Linked DNA regions of Homo sapiens: region 2 is linked to region 1. A link means that fine-mapping ties the variant in region 1 to the expression of a gene that starts in the linked region. Tissue or cell type: testis. Region 1 holds a variant in brackets; the other region holds the start of a gene. All regions are shown on one strand. Distances are between the middles of the regions.

Region 1 (6,076 bases):
CTCCCCACAGCCAGGTATCCCTGGGGTGATGGTGGGAATGGCATGCCAGCCTCTCCCTTTCCCAACAGACCTGGCTCCTGACTCAGCCCCTCTGACCCCCAGGTAACGTCCACGTCTACAGCAACGGCCGCATGCGCTATACCTACCAGCAAAGGCAGGACCGCAGGGACAACCAGGGTGATGTGAGTGAGGAGGGCGCCAGGGACAGCGCGGGAAGGGCACCAAATCCACCCCAGGGAGGGGGCTTGGAGGAGGGTGTTCCCTCCCACACTGTCCATTCTGGGACCAGCAGAGTCCCCATAACTCTCAGCCAAGGAGCCCTCTGGGCCTCCCTTGCCATTCTGCTGAGTGACACCAGAGGGCGCCACACGAGGGAGCCATGCTCCACATTGCCGGCGGGAGCGCGGCTTTGCTGGCCTGGCTGGGGAGTGGAACCAGAAACCCCACCCACAGCCAGGTTTGAGTGTGAGGCTCCCATGCAGACCGCTCGCTGGTAAGGCCAAAGTGACATCCTCTAAGCAATGGAAAGTTACACTTTGTGAGAGAATTTTATTTTATTTTTCATTTTTTTCATGGGTCTCAGCTATTTTCTCTCAACTTTGTGAGAGAAATTTCTTTTTTTTTAATTGAGATGGAGTCTTGCTCTCTCGCCCAGGCTGAGTGCAGTGGCGCGATCTCGGCTCACTGCAACCTCCGCCTCCCGGGTTCAAGCCATTCTCCTGCCTCAGCCTCCCGAGTAACTGGGATTACGGGTGCGTGCCACCACCCCCGGCTAATTTTGTATTTTTAGTAGAGATGGGGTTTCACCATGTTGGCCAGGCTGGCCTTGAACTCCTGACCTCTGGTGATTCACCCGCCTCAGCCTCCCAAAGTGCTGGGATTATGGGCGTGAGCCACTGCGCTCTGCCACTGAGAGAATTTTAAAGGATGACAACATAGGTGCCGACTCTTCTTGCTAAAAAGCCAAAAGATACTTTTAAAAAGATATTTACAAAAATTTGGGAGGCCAAGGTGGGTAGATCACCTGAGGTCAGGAGTTTGAGAGCAGTCTGGCCAACATGGTGAAACCCCGTCTCTACTAAACATACAAAAATTAGCTGGGCGTAGTGGCAGGCGCCTTTAATCCCTACTCGGGAAGCTGAGGCATGAGAATCACTTGAACCCAGGAGGCAGAGGTTGTGTTGAGCCGAGATCGTGCCACTGCACTCCATCCTAGGCAACAGAGCAAGACTCCGTCTCAAAAAAAAAAAAAAGTATAAAAATTATAACTAGACAGTGCTTCAAACACATTTTGTATGCCACAGATCAAAGAACAGCTAGCTGGCTAAAATTAAAATATTGTGGACAATTGCAAAACATTTTAAATTCTGGCCAGGCGGAAGGGGTTTCCTTTTGCTCTGACAATATTTATTCAATTTTTTTTTTTTTTAATTTTTTGAGATGGAGTCTCGCTCTGTTGCCCATGCCGGAGTGCAGTGGCACAATCTTGGCTCACTGCAACCTCTGCCTCCCAGGTTCAAGTGATTCTCCTGTCTCAGGCTCCTACGTAGCTGGGAGTACAGGCGCCCGCCACCACACCCAGCTAATTTTTGTATTTTTAGTAGAGACGGGGTTTCACCATGTTGGCCAGGCTGGTCTCGAACTCCTGACCTCGTGATCTGCCTGCCCCTTCCTCCCAAAGTGCTGGGATTACAGGCGTGAGCCACCATGCCGGCCTTTTTTTTTTTTTTTTGAGACAGGGTCTCGTTCTGTCACCCTGGCTAGAGTGCAGGAGCCTCCCCTCCCAGGCAAAGCTCCCACCTCAGGCTCCCCAGTAGCTGGGACCACAGGCCCACACCACCACACCCAGCTAATTTTTTGTATTTTTTGTAGAGATAGGGTCTTACTTTGCTGTTTGAGCACAGGCTGGTCTCAAACTCTTGGGCTCAAGTGGTCCTCCTGCCTCAGCCTCCCACAGTGCTGGGATTACAGGCATGAGCCATTGCCCCTGATCAAAATTTTTTTATTTTGTATCTAACAACAGAAGAGTTTAACATCACAGATTATCACACAGTGAATATATTTGTTAATTTTTATTTCTAATTCTTCTTTTTTTGTTTGTTTGCTTTTTCTGCACCCTAGAACCAGTGCTATTTCTAATTTTTATTTTGTTTTAATTATTATTTTTTGTAGAGATGGGGGTGTATGTTGGCCAGACTGGTCTTGAACTCCTGGCCTCACGTGTTCCTCTCATGTTGGTCTCCCAAAGTGTTGGGATTACAGGCATGAGCCGCCACACTGGCCATAATGTTTAAATTGGTAATATATTTGTGTGGTTCACATCTCAAAAACTTGTATATACTGCATGTCTCCTTCCAGCCCTGCCTTCCATTCTCCTGGAGGAAGCAACTTTTGCTGATTTTTTTTTTTTTTTGGCATTCTGTCAAAAGTAAATGCAGACACCTCACTTCCTCCTGTATTTCACACCAGTTGCTGCTTTGTTTTTATCTGGGAAAGCTGGCAGGTGAAGGAGCGTCTGTGTTTTGGAGCCTCGTGGAGGGAACGGCAGAGTGGTGTCATGTCTCCCCAGGCTCCACTATTCTAGGGGAGCTAGTGGTGATTATGGCTGACACCACACCCCACCCAGGTCCAGCAGAGTGACATTGGCTCTTCCCTCCAGGGCGGGCTAGGGGTGTTTGTGCAGCTGATGCCTATCCTCATCCTGATTCTCGTGTCAGCTCTCAGCCAGCTCATGGTCTCCAGTCCACCCTACAGTCTGAGTCCAAGACCGTGAGTACATGGGTGAGGCCGGGCCATGGGCAGACAAGGGGCTTTAAATTCTCAGCCCCATCAGGGGCCTTCTTTCCCATCCTGATCCAGCCAGTGTGCGATCATAATGCAGAAACCTGGCTTCGAATCAAGAAAATATACTTTCTCTATTCAACTAGGACTCTTAAGCTTTTTAGGATTATGGTCCCCTAAGAAATTGCAGCGAGAGCTACAGAACTTTTCCCTAAAACTATGCACACATGTGCACACACACATACACACACACGATACACATGTACACACACACACAATACATGCACACACATAATACACATGCACACATACACGCACACATATACACACAGAGTTTTGCATATAATTTCGGCGGCTTTGTGACTCTTCCCTGCCCATCTCCCCTGCCAACCCTGACGAAGAACCTCTGCTCCTCGGCTCTGGTTGGGCTTCCTGAGGCTGTGGAAAGAACAGGGCACTAGAGTCAGACAGAGCAAGCATGGCTTAGAATCCCAGCTTCTCCACTAAGAAGCTGTGTGACCCTAAACAAGTTATATAACCTTGGTTTCCTCATCTATAAAATGGGAATTATAACATCCACCTGCTGTGGAAATTAATGAGTAATGCATATAAAATGTCTGGCCCACTAGAAATGCTCAACAATATTAGTTTAATGAATGCTTAGTCTCGACTGCCAGGAGTGAACTTGAGGACATTTCATGAGCCGTTAGGG[G/A]GTCAGCTCCCCTCACTGATGTCCAGCACCTGGCCCAGGGTCAGCTACACAGTGGGTGCACATCTTCAGTGGGGTGGGTCCCCCTCTCCCAAAAGGTGGCCACCTCTGGCTGGGAGCTGGCAGGACCCTTCTCAGCCAGCAGGGGGCAGAGTCGGTCCACTGGACCCTGGCCGCCGGCTCAGGCTCCCTGTGGCCAGATGCCAGCCCTTTTCCCTGCAACTGGAGAGATGTGAGGAGCAGAGGACTAGGGCAGGGACTGTTGTCCCCAGAGCACTGGTCCTGTCTGGGTGTCAAGGCTCTTCCCACAGCTGACAGAGCCTGTGATTGGAGCTGGGAGGATAAGGCTCCCTGGAGCCCTTCCTGTCATTTTGTTCCTAAGCCTCTTAACCCTACACTGGGAACTCCTAGATAGGCAGGCAAGCACTCAGCAACAATTGGCTTAGGGGATGAATGGGGAGATGGAGGCACAGAGGCAGAGCCCAGATTCCCTCTCAGGTCTCCAGTTCCCTAGACCAGGCCTCTCCCCAAAGGCCCCAGGTCAGCAGTGTGGTAAGCAGGGATCTAAAGGCAGGGCGTCCTGCGGTCTGGGCCACGTGTGTGGGAGGACGCTGCCTTTTCCTCAGACTCTCCTTTCAGGGAGTGTGCGGGTCCCTGCTCTGGTTTGAGAGGGAACCAACTACTCCTCTGGTCTGTGCGGCACCTCCTGTCTTGGGGCCCATACCCCTAGAGTGCCCTGGGCATGGGGACCCGCACCCACTTTGAACCTGGTATTTCTGGCCAGGTCCGTGGGCCACATCCACAGGCGAGTCACTGACCACCTGGGTGTCGTCTACTATGTGGGAGACACTTTCTCCGAAGAGTACACAGGCTCCAGCCTCAAAACAGTCGAGCGGAATGTGGAAGATGATTATATCGCCAACCTCCGGAACAACTGCTGGAAGGAGAAGCAGCAGAGTGAGTGTGGGGGGAAGGCGGGGGCTGTATTTGGGAGGTGGCTTGGGATGAAGCTGGAAAGCAGGGGAAGGAGAGAGCCCTGCTCACCCTGTGCTCTGAGGGCCCAGCCCCTGGCACTGCCCTGCACCAGCCACCTCCCAGACAAGAGCTGGTCTCCACTCCTGTGTTTCTCCGGGGCTGGGAGCCAGGGGCCACCTGGTAGTTTCCTCAGGTTCCCGTAAATCACTGCCATCAGCCCAGCATGTTGGCTGCCAGAGGTGAGTGTGTAGAGATGGACTGGAGCGGATGGATCCCTGGCCACCCCCTGACTGTGCTCCTGGATCTGTCTGTGGGACCCTGGGGAGGCCTGACCAGGATGACAGGGTCTCACCTTGGCTGGCCTCACTGCATTCTAGAGAAAGGCGCCTCTGTCACCCTCGCCCACATAAGGACTGTAGTCTCTGCTCCTCCATGGTCTTCCTAATGGGAGGCCAGCCCTGCCCAAGCCCCGGGCATGTACCAGCTTTCCTCCGCCCTCCACAGCCCTCGCAGGCTTCCTTGCAGGCTTCGGGAGGTACTGGGTGTGCACTAACCCTGTCCCATTGCTTTGCAGAGGAAGGCTTGCTGTACCGGGCACGCTACTTTGGCGACACAGATATGTACCACAGAGCACAGAAGATGGGCACCCCCAGCTGCAGCCGACTGTCAGAGGTGCAGGCCTCCCTGCATGGATAGTCCTGGGCCAGCCACACCACCGAGGTCCAAGTATGAGCCAGGGCTGCCTCCACCCTGCAACTCCTGGCAGCTTTGGCCCTGGTCATGAGCAGAGGAGGGAGGGGGAGAAAGGGAGGAAGCCTGGTGATTGTGGCAAAGACTCCTGTCCCCAGCCTGACCTCCAGCCTCCAGAGACCGAGCAGCTGTGGGGCCTGCTGGGAAACCAAGGTCGGTTTCCGCCCTCTAGCGATGCTGTCCTCCCCACTCCTCCGCTCTGCTCCCTGGCTCCAGGGGTGTGGGGGACCCCAGAACCAGGCAGAGTGGGAACTTGAAACTGTTGCTGAGGGCCACCCGGGGCTTCTTGGTCCACTCCAGCCATCAGTCAGCACGGCCCTTTCTCCAGCACAGCAGACTATTGTCCGTGCCCTGGTATTTAGGCCATCACATATGGTGGGGCCCAAGAGAGCCCCATATGCACACTGCCTGCCTGATACCAGGAAGAACCATGTGGGAATAGGTGGGCCAAGAGCCCTCCCCTTTCTCCATCCCTCCAGCTAGGAGGAAATGGAGCAAGATGAACAGGCAGCCACGAGGTGGGTGGGAGCTGGCAGTCTTGGTGGCGGCAGGGGCCGCGGGCCCTGACCACCCCCCTCTGGTGGGATCTGAGGCACTCTCTCGAATGCCGTCACACCTGGCAGCCTGGAAGCCACAGGCATCCGGCCTTGCCCAGGCATCTCGCCTGCGGTCTGAGGAAGGGAACAGAAGGTCATGAGTTCAGGGTCAGACGCAGCCGCTCAGCACAGGAGGGGTGGAGGGGAAATGAGAGTTGCTGGTAGCAGGCTCCCTCCTTCTGCAGCCCGGCGAATGGGGGCGCTGGGCTCTGTTCCCAGCGTTTGCCAGAGGTGGCCACTTCAGCCAAGCCCAGAGAAGTGTGGG
Region 2 (5,465 bases), 290 kb before region 1:
TGACTAAGTACACATTAAAATAATTTCAATTTTAATTTTCTTTCTTTTCTCTTTTTTTTTTTTGAGACTGAGTCTTGCTCTGTCACTGAGGCCTAGGCTGGAGTGCAGTGGCATGATCCTGGCTCACTGCAACCTCTGTCTACCGGATTCAGGCGATTCTCCTACCTCAGCCTCCTGAGTAGCTGGGATTACAGGCGTGTGCCACCATGCCTGGCTAATTTTTGTATTTTTAGTAGAGATAGGGTTTCACCATGTTGGCCAAGATGGTCTCGAACTCATGACCTCAGGTGATCTGCCGCCTCTGCCTCCCAAAGTGCTGGGTGCCATTGTACCCGGCCTCAATTTTAAGTCCTCATATGCTAAATTAAAAAAAGTTTATAGAGACAGGTTCTTGCGCTGTTGCGCAGGCTGGAGTGCAGTGGCATGATCATAGCTCACTGTAGCCTCAAAGTCCTAGCCTCACGTGATCATCCCATCTCAGTCTCTCAAAATGCTGAGATTATAGGTATTAGCCTCTGCCTGGCCGAATATGGTAAATATCGATAGGTATAACACACATAAATAAAAGTTATTTTGAGTCCTCAATAATTTTTAAGTGTATAGGGGTCCTAAGACCAAAACGTTTGAGAAACAATGATTTATGTTTTTAAATGTTATTTAACAGTTAGTTTGACTGATTAGTTTTATATAGACAAATGTTGCCTAAAATTAGAATTGAATTTCAGCAAATCTTTCTTTCTTTTTTTGAGACGGAGTCTCGCTTTGTCGCCCAGGCTGGAGTGCAGTGGCACGATCTTGGCTTACTGCAAGCTCTGCCTCCCGGGTTCCTGCCATTCTCCTGTCTCAGCCTCCCGAGTAGCTGGGACTACAGGCGCCCGCCACCACGCCTGGCTAATTTTTTGTATTTTTAGTAGAGACAGGGTTTCACCGTGTTAGCCAGGATGGTCTCGATCTCCTGACCCGCCCGCCTCAGCCTCCCAAAGTGCTGGGATTACAGGCGTGAGCCACCGCGCCCGGCCTGAATTACATCATTTAAGAGTGGAAGCCTCAGAGGCCTTCAGGTCAGGTCTATGTCCCGCTACTGCATGTACTGCATTACCTAGGGGTGTCAGCCTGCTTCCCTATCTGCAAATGAATAAAACAGTATCCATCCTAGAGTGGTTGTAGACAAGCACTGGGTTGTATGTAAAGCGCTAGCACAGAGCCATGAACACAATCATCTATTGTACTTAGGTTAGTTGGGTCTGAGAAGAAATGGAGAAAACAGAGTTGATTCTGCTTACTTCACAATTTACCCCAGGGATGGTTTTGTTGGCTTTGTTTCCATGGTTGTTGCCTTTTCCACAGCTCTGCTACGTAAATTCTTGGGAAAAAAAAATTATTTGAAAGTTCTCTGGGACCAGCGAGGTGGCTCGCACTTGTTAATCCCAGCACTTTGGGAAGCCGAGACGGGAGGATCGCCCGAGGTCAGGAGTTTGAGACTAGCCTGCCCAACATGGCGAAACCCCGTCTGTACTAAAAATACAAAAATTAGCCGGGCGTGGTGGGGCGTGCCTGTAATCTCAGCTACTCGGGAGGCTGAGGCAGAAGAATCACTTGAACCTGGGAGGAGGATGTTGCAGTGAGCATCACTGCACTCCAACCTGGGCGACAGTGCGAGACTCCGTCTCAAAACAAACGAACAAACAACCAACCAACACCCCGCTGCCCCCCCCCCAAAAAAATTCTCTGGTATTATAGTCATATTTCCATCCTATTTCCACAGCAGGGGTGAGGATCCTTTGCCATCCCATTTTTCTGATAAAAACACCTTCTTCAGCCGGGCGCAGTGGCTCACGCCTGTAATCCTCGCACTTTGGGAGGCCGAGGTGGGCGGATCACCTGAGGTCGGGCGTTCCAGACCAGCCTGACCAACATGGAAAAACCCCGTCTCTACCAAAAATACAAATTAGTAGGGCGTGGTGGCGCATGCCTGTAATCCCAGCTACTTGGGAGGCTGAGGCAGGAGAATCGCTTGAACCCAGGAGGCAGAGATTGCAGAGAGCCGAGATCGCTCCACTGCACTCCAGCCTGGGCATCAAGAGTGAAACTCTATCTCAAAACAAACAAACAAACAAACAAACAAAAAACACATTCTTCAAGGGAAAACATGTTTTTAAGTGGCTTCTAGAGATTATAAACTCTGCAATAATATTAGTCTGCAAATAAAACACCTGACAAAATCATCCACCAGAGGAAGTGGTGAGGGTTTCTAAATCCAAAAAAGTCTCAAGGTTATGAAACAGGAACATTTAATCTCTGAGAAAACCTAAACGGAGTTGGAAAGAAACAATTTCCAACTCACTGTGGTCCAGTTTTCTTTTCACGAACTCCTTTTTGCTTAGCCAACATAGCCAACACGAAAACGGGTACCGAGGAGGTGTTACAAGCCACAGTAAATTTCTCAACAGATTCCTATGACCCTTGTGGAGGGGAAAAAAACCAGAAGAAATGCCCGAGAGCTTCTGGGAGCTCTCCAGCTTTCCCGCCTAAACGCTGAGGGGAGTAAGGGGGAGTGACGGGGCTAGGGCGGGGCCCGAGGCTGGGGCGTGGCGCGTTGATTTCCCCGCCCCTCCCCGTTCCTTTTCCTCTGTGCCCCTCCCACACGCCTGTCTCCACGATCCCGACAGGCCCAGCGGCTAGGAGAGTCACGTGAGAGTGGGCGGAGGGGGTGGAGGTTTGTCTCCGCTGTTTCATCTCTATGGCTGTCAGAGGTGGGCGGCTTTGACCGAGAGGCTGCTGGAGCTCGTGTTTGGACGCGTGAGTCTTGGACTCTGGAGGGTATAAGGAGACAGCAATTTAGGGAAGGCGAAGGGGAAGGGGGTTGGCGAGACAGCCTTAGGGAACTGGGCTTCGTGGCTGGCCGTTTGTCCGCCCCGGGCATCCGGCTACTTCTCGGGTCTGGCGGGATACCTGTCTCTCCCTGATGCGCTCAGCTTTTGGAGAGGAGTCCGTAGTCTTGCTTGCCTCCCGTCCTCCACTTTCCTTCACCCCAACCCGTCCCTTCTCCCGTCCCGGGAGAACTTCTCCCAGTGCCGGGTTCGCAACTTGGCGCCGACGCCCCCCTCCTCACAGGCGACTGGGACACTCTGGTAGCCTTGACTGGCTCTCCTGGAATTTGTGGATGTGGTTAGAAGTGGGTGCGGGAGTTCACAGATGGATTTCTAATACGGAGAAATATTAACCACTGAATCGAAATAAGTGGAAAATCAGTGAGGACTCAAAGGAGAAATACAAAGTGCAGGCTACTCGGACTGTTCAGTTTTTATCTTTTCCAGCGCCTTCCCGTTTTCATTACGTTCTCCCTGTTTTGTTTTCACCGTCGCATTCTGGCCGGCCATAGGCTGTTTTGAGAAAGAGCTAGATGTTATTGACTCTATGTGAATGTTGGGAGAACAGTTTAAAACAAACTGTTCTTCAAGTTGCCTTCTCTGTAATCTTATGGTTGATGGTTTCTTTACCTTCCAATTTTCCATGTCTTAAAAAATACGGTGGCCATTAGTAAATATAAGTAGAATAAATATCTTATAGCTAAGGGACTAGAGTAAAATATTTTATTTTTCCTGTGGTACCTTAGAAACGCCCATTTTCTTCCTATTTATCAATAAATGTTTCTATCTCACTTGTTTGGGTGGCTTCTTTGATATGCCTTTGTTTATATTAGAACATCCCTTTGGGGCACGTAGGGAAGTGATCGAGCAGTATAAGAAAGGAGTTTGCATTTCATGAGGTGAAACAAGTTCGGTGTGGATAGCTGTAGGAGAGTTTAGGTTTCATTGGACCATATGACAAATAATAAACGTCAGTATCTTGAGACAAAGGTGTTGGCCAGAATGACCCACCTACTGTGTTTCTGGTGTGGACCAGGTAATGAGCTTTTTGAATATTGCCTTATCCTAAAAACTTTAGAACCCATTGCCACTTGTCTGTAGGAAGGTGGCTTTTGCCTCCAGCTACTCTTTGTCCCAATCCTTGGTTTGTCCCTGATTGTCTCTTCCACTTAAGAACATCACTCTGGCTACCTAATATATCAAGCAAGTGTCTCTGACATCTTCTGAGTGTCCTTACTGAGAGCCATAAAACATAATATTAACAAAAAGTGAATATTCTGGAGTGGCTTGTGTGCCTGAGGAGAAAGGGAAAGAATGATAGAAACTAATAGAAGCTAATAAATGCAAGAGAACAAAAGTGTTTATTGCTGTCTTCCTTTATATTTACTATATTCAGTAGATTGTTTACATTCCTAAGAAGTGCATCTTGAGACTAACTTTCCTGTGTTTAAGAATAAAACAGGCTGGGTGTGGTGTCTCAGGCCCATAATCCCAGCAATTTGGGAGGCCGGGTGGATCCCTTGAATCTAGGAGTTTGAGACCAGCCTGGGCAATATGGCAAGACCATCTCTACAAAACACAAAAATTAGCTGGGCGCATGCCTGTAGTCCTGGCTACTTGGGAGGCTGAGACAGGAGGATGGCTTGAGCCCTCGAGGTTGAGGCTGCAGTGAGCTGTGATCGTACCATTGCACTCCAGCTTGGGCGACAGAGCGATACCCTGTCTCTTAAAACAACAACAAAAGAATAAAACGATATGAAATTTCTCCATAATGCAATATTATGCAAAATAATTATAATTGAAATATTTAACTGACCAACTCCTTCAGATCTTATGCTATTCAGAGTTATAGGACTAATATAATTGATAAAGCTTTTTTAAACCCAATTTTGCCACCTTCAGTCTTTAAAGTTAGCTTTATCTCTTGAGCCATTTTTACAATGGCTGCAGCACTTGCTGAACATTAACCATTTTTTCCATATGCAGTTGTTTAGTGTATCCCTTTTAAAATAAGAACCAGTTTTTAATTAATTAATTAATTAATTAAATGGAGATGGGGTTCAGCCATTTTGCCGAGGCTGGTCCTTTTGTTGAGGGGTGGGGACGGAGTCTCATTCTGTTGCCCAGGCTGGAGTGCAGTGGTGTGATCTCGGCTCACTGCAACCTCTGCCTCCTGGGTTCAAGCAATTCTCCTGCTTCAGCCTCCGAAGTAGCTGGAACTACAGGCGCGGCACCACATCTGGCTAATTTTTGTATTTTTAGTAGAGATGGGGTTTTACATGTTGGCCAGGCTAGTCTCGAACTCCTGACGACCTCAGGTGATCCACCTGCCTCGGCCTCCCAAAATGCTGGGATTACAGGCCTGAGCCACCACACCTGGCCTACCCAGGCTAGTCTTGGAACTCCCAGACTCAAGCGATCCTCCCGCCTTGGCCTCCCAAAGTTCTGGGATTGCAGGTACAAGCCACCATGCCTAGCCACTAGAACCAGTTTTTTTAAAAAGGTTTACTCAACTGTTTTTTCCACACATATTTTCTTTTTCTTTCTTTTCTTTTCTTTTTTTCTTTCTTCTCCCTTTCTTTCTCCCTCCCCTCC

The links. PIP is the estimated chance that this variant, and not a neighbour inherited with it, causes the effect.
Region 2: MICU1 starts here. The variant in region 1 is fine-mapped to the expression of MICU1 in testis (GTEx, PIP 0.95).

What each region holds. Positions count from the first base shown.
Region 1 is chr10:72,334,895-72,340,970 of GRCh38, reverse strand. DNAJB12 (DnaJ heat shock protein family (Hsp40) member B12) reads left to right here. Exons shown (of 9, transcript NM_017626.7): 5 at 103-182; 6 at 2,660-2,769; 7 at 4,275-4,447; 8 at 5,040-5,191. The coding sequence ends at 5,161. Among named protein-coding and RNA genes, the nearest start is that of DNAJB12, 17 kb to the left of the region's middle. RefSeq lists enhancers at 5,065-5,184, 5,745-6,076. The variant G/A (reference allele first, on the strand shown) is at 3,494.
Region 2 is chr10:72,623,344-72,628,808 of GRCh38, reverse strand. MICU1 (mitochondrial calcium uptake 1) reads left to right here and starts at 2,730. Exons shown (of 12, transcript NM_001195518.2): 1 at 2,730-2,799. RefSeq lists enhancers at 2,726-2,875, 2,426-2,963.